Linked DNA regions of Homo sapiens. The protein of the gene in region 1 interacts with the protein of each later gene in a pairwise test. Each region holds a gene or a part of one and is shown on either strand. Other genes may lie near its edges.

Region 1 (5,829 bases):
AAGTTCAGCTTTGGTCTCTTCCCGGTGGCTTGGGCGTGGGTACCTCATAGAATGACAGCTGGTTCTAAAGAGGAGTGTTTCAAGCATGGGAATATCTTGGAAGTGATTCAGTATCACTTAACTGCATTATTTTAGTCATAGTGACACTGGTCACAGGGCCAGCTCAGATTCAAGGGGAGAGGAAATAGACTCTACCTCTCCATTTGGAACAGTGGCAAATAATCTGTGGCCATCTTTAATTCCACTATAACAGAGAAGTGGTTAAGGCTAATGTGTGTGGATACATTGCACAATGTGTGATGAAGGGGCCAGGTAAGTCTCAGGTCTTTAGAAAGAAGACTATTCAGAAAACTTGATTATTTCCTCAGGGTTCAAAGTGGTCAGTGCTTTATAAGTAAGAATTTACTGTAATTATAAGATTATTACACTCTTAGGGAGTATTATAAATAAGAGAAACATTTCTTTTTGGTAAAAATAATAGCTGTTCTTTTTTTAAGGTAAAACAGTTAAGAAATACTACCTAAGGCAATCATTGGTTATAATATTTAATAGCAATTTAATTTACATGTAGGCTGAGAACCCTTGGAAGGGATTCTAATCAGAACAAAAGAAAAATAGAATATAAAATTAAATTTTAACTTCTCTGAAGAGTGGAATTTTCTGATTCTTGGATACCTTCCCAGAATTAGCTTGTGCGATGATCTCAAGCTACCATGCTTCCTGGAGCTATTCTGTGGGTCTACTCTCACCTTATAGAGGCAGTGAAGAGTTCTGAAGTGAATCCATATTACAACATTTCTATTATGCCTTTGTAATTCCATTTTAATTTTGAAACACTGGCTTTTAGATGAATTTTTAAGAACTTTACTTGGGAAGAGCTATGAAGTTCTTCTGCCTCTCTGGTTACTTACCTCTAAACTAGCTTGTTCATCTGTGAATTTTAAAACTTTCTATCCTGCTCTTGCTGCCATCTTCAAAATATCCTTTATGTGTGTATCTAGTGCCTAGTTTACTCATCTAATAAGCCCTTAGAAGACACTCAGCAAATGTTTTTTGAGTGATTGACTGTTGCCCTGGAGCCTGTCTTGACCAATAGAGAGAGAGCTTTTCTTATCACTTACTAATTAGGAACTAGCTGTTGAGCACACTGGCTCCAACCATCTAAAGCAATAATTAAGGTAAACCAGGTGATCCGAAAAGTGCAGTAACTTACAAAATATCATGAACTGTATTTTATTATTCTTTTTAACTTGAGTTTTCTTTTTCATTTTTATCTGGTTAATGTGAAAAGGAGCTTATTTCCAGCAACACTAATGGAATTTTTCTTTTTAATCACTAGTAATTGGAAGGGGAAAGACCCTTCACCTGACATGTGGGGACTGAGTTATTGGTATAAATCTTGCTCTTTCTTGGGTGATTTCTCTTCTTCATTTAAATTAAAAGTTGTCCTTAATGGCCTCTTGGAGCTGACATGTTGGGCTCAAGACCCAGGAATCTCAAGAAATATGCTAGAGATTTCTGGTTTAATTAAACAAAAGACCTTATTAATAAAAGCCAGCCAGCTGGGCATGGTGGCTCACATTTGAAATCCCAGCACTTTGGGAGGCCAAGGAGGACAGACCACTTGAGCCCAGGAGTTCGAAACTAGCCTGGGCAACAAGGCAAAACTCCGTCTCTACAAAAAAATACAGAAATTAGCTGGACATAGTGGTGTACACCTGTAGTCCCAGCTACTCAGGAGGCTGAGGCAGGGGGAAAACAGCCTGGGAGGTTGAGGCTGCAGTGAGCCATGATCACGCCACTGCATCCAGCCTGGGTGACAGAGCGAGACCCTGTCTTTTTTATATATATATAAAATAAAAGCCAACCATAACTACATATGGAAGGAAATAATAAATTCATTCCCCTCACTTGGCTTTCTAAACTGACATAAGCAAAAGGAAAATGAAAAGTTTTAAAAATGTTTTTCATTAAAGTAAAGGATTTCTTAATAATAGATTTTCCTGTAGCCTGTGTTAGAGGAACACTCACCAGGTCATCACAGTTCTTTCCTTTTATAGGGTCCAGCTCCTCTTTTGACATGGGATTAGGTGACCACGTGATTGATTAGCCTCACAATCACAATCCTGTCCCTCCTGTTGCTTTCCATTCACAGTTGATCAAGACGCAGAGCCTGAGATAGAGGTCAGGCAGAGAGCACGAGGCCCAGTGCAGAATCATTTTCTGAACCAGCCAGGAAATACCGGAACCCACCAAACTTTAAACACCAGCCTAAATTATTCCTGTTCTTTTAAGCAGGCAGCAGAAATGACAGAAACCCGTTAACAGAAAAAAAAAAAATAATGCTTTTCATTTGAACTCCTGTGCATTTTCTTTTTAACTTATATGTGTTCCTAATTTTCCTTACTCTTTTTGTTTGTTTGTTTCTTAGTGTGGTTTATTGACAATCATTTACAATGCCGAAGAGTGCTGTAGTGAGCCAGCACAGTGGGTAACACAGCAACGGAGAACAGATGCAGGTTTGAGGAATTTAACTTGCTAAAACCTTGAACTGAAGTCTTAGAGATTGGAACATACGGGTTTGTATAAATAGGCTTTTAAGCCCTGTTTGCAATGGGTTACTGATAGGAGAAACTTGCTTGTGGAATGTCAGCTGCGTGAGCTCACTGTCAGACAAGATGGAAGAAGAAGGGCTGGAGTGTCCAAACTCTTCCTCTGAAAAACGCTATTTTCCTGAATCCCTGGATTCCAGCGATGGGGATGAGGAAGAGGTTTTGGCCTGTGAGGATTTGGAACTTAACCCCTTTGATGGATTGCCATATTCATCACGTTATTATAAACTTCTGAAAGAAAGAGAAGATCTTCCTATATGGAAAGAAAAATACTCCTTTATGGAGAACCTGCTTCAAAATCAAATCGTGATTGTTTCAGGAGATGCTAAATGTGGTAAGAGCGCTCAGGTGAGTAACCACTACAAAAAATAATTTGCTGTATGTGTTGATTTTTTAATTGTTATTTAATGACATGTCACAGCCTAGTGTTCTAATAATAGTGTCTAAAACAAAAAACAAAACATTATTCAGATAAAATAATTAAATCACGTACCTAATTTTATTAATTTTACTAATACTAGCTGAAAAGTTAATAATATCTATGTAGAAATTAATTGTGTTTAGGGTACCACTGAATTGTCTATAGAGCAGTATTAAAATTACTCAAATGATCCTAGTATTAAATTTACTCAAATGATCCATTGTGTATATGATATTTTAAAAGATGTGATGCGTGTTATTTCCTCAGCATGGGTATGGGGATTAACTGCTCTGTTTCAGTGCCCAGTGGTCTGAGAATCCAGATATGTGGATGTGCTTGCTGGTGAAGCTGGCTGAGCTACTGAAATCAAAAGCACAAGGAAATTCTGATTTTCCTGACTATAAGAAATAACTGAGCAACTAAATATGATCCAGGCCTGGGGCCACACACTTTGGGGTCTAAGATGGGGGAAAGAATTAGGATCATTAAGAGATAAACCTAGGGATATTAAAATATTAAAGAGTTGGAGCAGGCACAGTGGCTCACATCTGGAATCCCAGCACTTTGGGAGACCAAGGTGGACAGATCATTTGAGCCCAGGAGTTCAAGACCAGCCTGGGCAACATGGCAAAATGCCGTCTCTACAAAGAAGTAGCCGGGCATGGTGCTGCATGCCTGTCGTCCCAGCTACTTGGGAGGCTGAGGTGAGAGAATCACCTGAACCTGGGAAGTTGAGGCTGCAGTGAGCTGTGATGATGCCCCTGCATTCCAGCCTGGGCGATGTGAGTGAGAGACCTTGTCTCAGAAAAAAAACAAAAAAAACAAGGAGTTTGTTTGAGCAAAGAATGACTCATGAATTACGCAGCACTCAGAACCATTGGAGGTTAGTGAGCCCCATTCTAGCAGCAAGGGCAGTGAGCTTTTATAGGCTGAACATGAAAGTAAGACAAAAGACATTTAAATTGGTTAGAGTGGAAAGTTCCGAGTTAGGGAATAGTTGGCAGTTTCTGATTGATAAAGTCTAGTATGGTTTTACTGTTTACATTGGACTTTAGTTTGCTTATGTGGGACCTTCTAGAGCTCTGTCATTGCCTCAGCCTAATGGCCTCTCAATTAAAGTTTGTTTGTTTGTTTAACGGGATAGTGGGCCAGGTGCAGTGGTTCACACCTATAATCCCATCACTTTGGGAGGCTGAGGCAGGAGGATTGCTTGAGTCCAGCAGTTTGAGACCAGGCTGGGCAACATGGCAAGATCCCAACTTTATAAAAAATTAAAAAATTAGCTGGGCATGGTGGTGCGTGCCTGTGGTCCCAGCTACCCAAGAGGCTGAGGCAGAAGGATCACTTGAGCCCATGAGGTCAAGGCTGCAGTGAGCCATGTTCATGCCACTGTACTTCAGCCTGGGCAACAGAGCAAGACCCCGTCTCAAAAAAAAAAAAAAAAAAAAAAAAAACAAGAAAAGGCTGGGCGCTGTGGCTCATGCCTGTAATCTCAGCACTTTGGGAGGCCGAGACGGGCAGATCATGAAGTCAGGAGTTCGAGACCAGCCTGTCCAATATGGTGAAACCCTGACTCTACTAAAAAATACAAAAATTAGCTGGGCATGGTGATGCACACCTGTAGTCCCAGCTCCTTGGGAGGCTGAGGCAGGAGAATCACTTGAACCCAGGAGGTGGAGGTTGCAGTGAGCTGAGATTGTGTCACTGCACTCCAGCCTGGGTGACAGAGTAAGACTCCATCTCAAAAAAAAAAAGAAAACAAAACAAAACAAAAAAAAACACCAAGAAAAACAAGGTAGTGTAGAGAAGGAAAAAGTAATAATTTTCTCTGTCCTTCATAACTCTTATCTGAGGCTCCCTGTAACAAAAGACAAATTAACAGAAGAAAAACAGAAGTGTATTAATATGTATGCCTCATGTATACACGGGAAAACCCCAGAGAAATGAGCAAGTCTCTAGAGTAGATCTCAAAGAAAGCATTTAAATTTTGGGCTTAAATACCATCATTCTCTGAAACAAAGTAAAAAAGGTTGTGGGGAACAACCCTGTTAAGATGAGATGGCCAGGAAAAGCACCTTAAATGAAGGTGAAGTTTGTTATGAAGATGTAAGTCGATGTCTTCTTTACTTAGTCATCTCCTCCTGTTGCAGAGAGGGAGATGCCCTTATAAGCAGAGATTTCTTGTATAGGCACAAATTTATCTTTAAAAAGGTAACTTTTCAGAGCTACTCCTATGTCTACACTTTCTCAAAATGTGCAAAGGAGGCATATTTTGGGGTCACATATTCTGGTCTCCTTCAGTCATATTCTGGGGAGGTATGTCCTGAGCCCCAACATTAGATAGTTAATAAATACTTATTATTCAGTTTGTTGTTGTATTTGGACTTCAAGTTTTTGTTCAAGTGAGATCCATATTTTACTCTTAAGTTTTAAAGCAAGCAACCAGTATTTTTATCATGAAATTCATTTCTAGATTCTCGCGATGTAAGAATTAGAATAGACCATATAGTGTGAATAATAAGAAGTCCCATTTCTCATAGAGAAGTTACGAATAGATCTAGTAGAATAGACTATGCTCTAATAGAATAGAATTAGAAACTGATGGAACCCCTTCATTTTTCAGATGAATAAACTGTGGCCCAGAAGGATTTGATAATTTGTCTATCTAATGTCAGTAGCTTTCTGAATTGGAGTTAAAAGAATATTTTCTACTATAAATTGTTGCTTTCAAGTTGTTTATTATCTCTAGAGTTTACCTATTTTATTATCACTATTATTTTTTGAGACAGAGAGGCT
Region 2 (4,432 bases), on another chromosome or scaffold:
CATAAAAATGTTGATGTTTAAGTAGGAAACTATCTCCCTCAAAGCCAGGTAAGTAATGTGATTTATTACTTTTTAATCTGATTTCTAAATATGCATATGTGCTTTTAATTACAATGAGTATTCTTTTATAATTTAGCTTTAATCCATTGATAAAGGGAGCTTAATTTGATGAACGTGAGCATAATGTTTCTTAGAAATAGATTACTTACCCTTAGGAAGTAAACTATTAATAGCTTTTTATTTTTTATTTATTTATTTTTTTGAGACAGAGTCTCGCTCTGTCACCTAGGCTGGATCCCGAGTTCAAGCGATTCTCCTGCCTCAGCTTACAGAGTAGCTGGGATTACAGGTGCTCACCACCACGCCTAGCTAATTTTTGTATTTTTGGTAGAGATGAGGTTTTGCCATGTTGGCCAAGCTGGTCTCAAACTCCTGACCTCAGGTGATCTGCCTACCTTGGCCTCCCAAAGTGCTGGGATTACAGGCGTGAGCCACCGTGCCTGGACAATAGCTTTTTCATAACACCAACTTGTGTATAATTAAGCCTAATTATCATTTAAAAGTATAATTATTTTCCCCAATCCATTAATCTTATTTATCTTGGTAGCAATTATATCTTACATAGAGAAAATAGTGTAGTTTAATTTATTATAGGATCTTGCTCAAACAGTGAGAACACTTACGGTAAATTTATATATTTTGGTTCCTGTTTCTCTTTATGTTGTATTCCCATGCTCTTTACTTCTCCTTTGACTTGCTCCCATTGAATTAACTTTGCCACTAACCTGTAGGAGATCTTATTTAGGGGAAAAAAATAACAGCAAAGGCTGGATGCCATGGCTCACATCTGTAATCCCAACACCTCAGGAGTACAAGGCAGGAAGATTGCTTGAGCCCAGGAGTTTGAGACCAGCCTGGTAAACATAATGAGACCCCCATCTCTACAAAAAATTTAAAAAAATTAGCCAGGTGTGGTGGCATGCCCCTGTAGTTCCACCTACTCGAGAGCTAAGGTGGGAGGATCATTTGAGCCCAGGAAGTCAAAGCTGCAGTCAGCCATGATTGCACCACTGCACTCCAGCCTGGACAACAAAGTGAGAACCTGTCTCAAAATTAATAGGCCAGGCGCAATGGCTCATGCCTGTAATCCCAGCACTTTGAGAGGCCAAGACAGGCAGATCACCTGAGGTCAGGAGTTCAAGACCAGCCTGGCCAACATGGTGAAACCCTCATCTCTACTAAAAATACAGAAAATTAGCCAGGCATGGTGGTGCACACCTGTAATCTCAGCTATTCGGGAAGCTGAGGCACGAGAATTGCATGAACCCAGGAGGTAGAAGTTGCAGTGAGCTGAGATTGTGCCACCGCACCAGCCTGAGCAACAGAATGAGACTCCATCTCAAAACAAAAGTAAATAACAACAACAATAAAATAATAATAAAAAATAAGAGCAAAGTCTTGTTTTCAGGAGAAATTCCTTACAGAGAAGATAGCTAATTTGTTCCAAAATTTTCTTGGTTTTATACACTTATAAATGAGACAAGAGGACTTTCATTCATCTTTTCAGGGCAGTTTGAAGTCCCTTAAAATATTTATGCCTTGAGGATTTCAGAAATTAAAGTGTCCAGACTATTCCTAGAGCATAATATGTGTGATCTCAGAACCTAGGATTTTATTCTGCATTCCATGAGAATTAACCGGTATAGAAGAGGAATCGAGGTAAACTGTGAACTGTGCTTATAATTTCTGATTTGTCAGCTAAGCTAAATGTTATTTCTTTTTTTTCATTGACTTTGTACAAGTTGATAAGTTAAATGTTACATATGTAAGTTCTTATTTCTTAGATGATCTTTTAAAATTCCATTGCTTTTCTTTAATTTTAGAAAGAGCGAAAAGGAAAGGATGAGAGAATACCAACGAGAACTAGAAGAAAGAGAAGAAAAATTAAAAAAGAGGCCACTGCTATTTGAAAGAGTTGCTCAGGTTGTGTTTATTGGAATTTAAGAGCTATCGTCAGTTTTTTTTTTTTTTTTTACAGCTTTAGCTCCTAAATTTACAGTCCATTTTTCTTATGTGTTATATAACTGTTGAGATACATTATTGTTGTTTGTGTTGGCTTCATCATATCAGCCAATGAGTAATTTTGCTTAAATCCGAGCATTTAGCCAGGTGTGGTGGTGTGCACCTGTAGTCCCAGCTACTTGGGAGGCTGAGGTGGGCAGATTGCTTGAGCCCAAGAGTTTTGGTCCAACCTGTGCAACGTAGCAAGACCTCATCTCAAAAAAATAATCTGAACATTGAATCTTTTTGATGAAGCACATAAGTTTGATAAATAACATGCCAATCCAGTAGTTCGTAAAATAATTTTGCAAGCTGTTTTCTAATGGCTGGTCTTTTTTCAGTACAAACTTGGTTAGATATTAAGATGAGGCTTCATGATATCACTTGGAGGTCTTTGAAGAATTAAAAAAATGAAACAAAATGGCTAATTGAATCAGAGTTATTTCTGCTAGTTTTTTTTTTTAAGTGAGTCTGTAATTCAATCTTCTCTGCAATTACTAAAAGAACTTCCTTTCTATACGAAAAACAAACTAGTCTTACGGACAGTGGACCCTGATTTTACTAAGTTTATGCCCGGTTTTACAACCTTTCCCTTAAGGGAAATTTGTCAATTTTAGGTCATCTTCTCCTTTGTCCCATAGGGGAGGCATCTGTATGGGTGACATGGCTTAACAATTGACAAAATCACTGGAGGTTACAGGTTCTAAATTGTGAATTTGAAGCTGTTATAATTGGACAATAGACAGTTGGAGAATTTACCTGTAACAGATGAGCATAGTTACAGAACTGTACTTGCCAGTGACTCATTGAGGACAGTGGACATGTATTGTGGGTGAATCTGCACATTACAGTCTCTCAAAGTTACGTAATCTTTTTGCTCACTGATCTAGATATAATTTTATATAATGCCTTTCATTTTAAGTGATGGATTTTTTTAACATCTTTATTTCAACTTTAGGGGGAAAAATCATTTTAAGCTGTTCTACATTATAATCATAAAGTGATTGGCTTTTGGCTCAAAGACATTATCTCCAGCTCTGAACTGCAAGTTTTTTGTTTTTGCTCTTTACACTGCTTCTGGGTTTTTCTTATTTATTTATTTATTTATTTTTTCAACTTTTATTTTAAATTCAAGGAGTATATGCGCAGGTTTGTTACAAGGGTATGCCAGGCGCCGTGGCTCACACCTGTAATCCCAGCCAGCATTTTGGGAGGCCGAAGCAGGTGGATCACCTAAGGTCAGTGGTTCGAGACCAGCCTGGCCAACATGGTGAAACCTTGTCTCTACTAAAAATACAAAAATTAGCCGGGCATGGTTTTGCGTGCCTGTAGTCCCAACTACTTGGGAGGCTGAGGCAGGAGAATTGCTTGAACTTGGGAGGCGGAGGTTGTAGTGAGCTGAGATTGCGTCATTGCACTCCAGCCTGAGCAACAAGACCAAAATTCTATCTCAAAAAAAAAAAAAAGGGTATATTGTGTGAGCTGGGGTTTGGGGTATGATTGAACTCATCACCCAGGTAATGAGCATAGTACCCAATAGGTAGGTTTTCAACCCTTGCCCTCCTCCCTCCACTCTCCCTCTTATATTCTCCAGTGTCTGTTGTTCTCATCTTTATTTCCATGTGTACCCAGTGTTTAGTTCCCACTTGTAAGTGAGAACATATGATGTTTGGTTTTCCGTTTCTGCTTTAGTTTGCTTAGGATAATGGCTTCCAGCTGTATCCATATTGTTGCAAAGGACATGATTTCATTCTTTTTTATGGCTGTGTAGTATTCCATGGTGTATGTGTAACATATTTTCTGTATCCAATCCACTGCTGATGGGCTGGGTTGTTACCATGTCTTTGCTGTTGTGAATAGCATCAGCACTTGTTATTGTCTGTCTGATTTTTTTAGAAAAATATTTTTAGAGACAGGGTTTCACTCTGTTGCCCAGGCCAGTGCAGTAGTACAATCATAGCTCACTGGAACCTTGAACTCCTGGGCTCAGATGATCCCCAGTATGAGCATCCCAAGTAGCTGAGACAAAGGCCCACACCATCATGCCCAGCTAATTTTATTTTTTGTAGAGACTGGGTCTCGCTGTATGGCCCAGGCTGGTCGTGAACTCCTGGCCTCAAGTGATCCTCCCACCTCCACCTCCCAAGTTGATGGGATTACAGGCATGAGCCACTGCACCTAGCTTTTGTCTGTCTTTTTGTTATAGTCTTCCTAGTGGGTACAAAGTGGTATTTTATTATTCAGTAACATTCTTTCAACTGTTCTTTTATCTTTTTCATTACAGACTCTATCTACTAGCTTATTGATATGGTAGGTGAGGATTTAGCTGTTTTAACACGTCCTCTCGGAAGCACACTTACCTACCCTTTCA

The links. Proteins that work in one complex are often made in the same cells at the same time.
Region 2: the proteins of DHX32 (region 1) and FAM161A interact in binary tests that used the Homo sapiens proteins (3 or more experiments, as listed by UniProt).

What each region holds. Positions count from the first base shown.
Region 1 is NC_000010.11:125,877,674-125,883,502, reverse strand, and holds the start of DHX32 (putative pre-mRNA-splicing factor ATP-dependent RNA helicase DHX32), read left to right. Parts: upstream 1-2,210; 5' UTR 2,211-2,678; coding exon 2,679-2,960; intron 2,961-5,829.
Region 2 is NC_000002.12:61,833,561-61,837,992, reverse strand, and holds part of FAM161A (protein FAM161A), read left to right. Parts: exon of another isoform or gene 1-48; intron 49-1,883; coding exon 1,884-1,983; intron 1,984-4,432. UniProt on the Homo sapiens protein: Involved in ciliogenesis.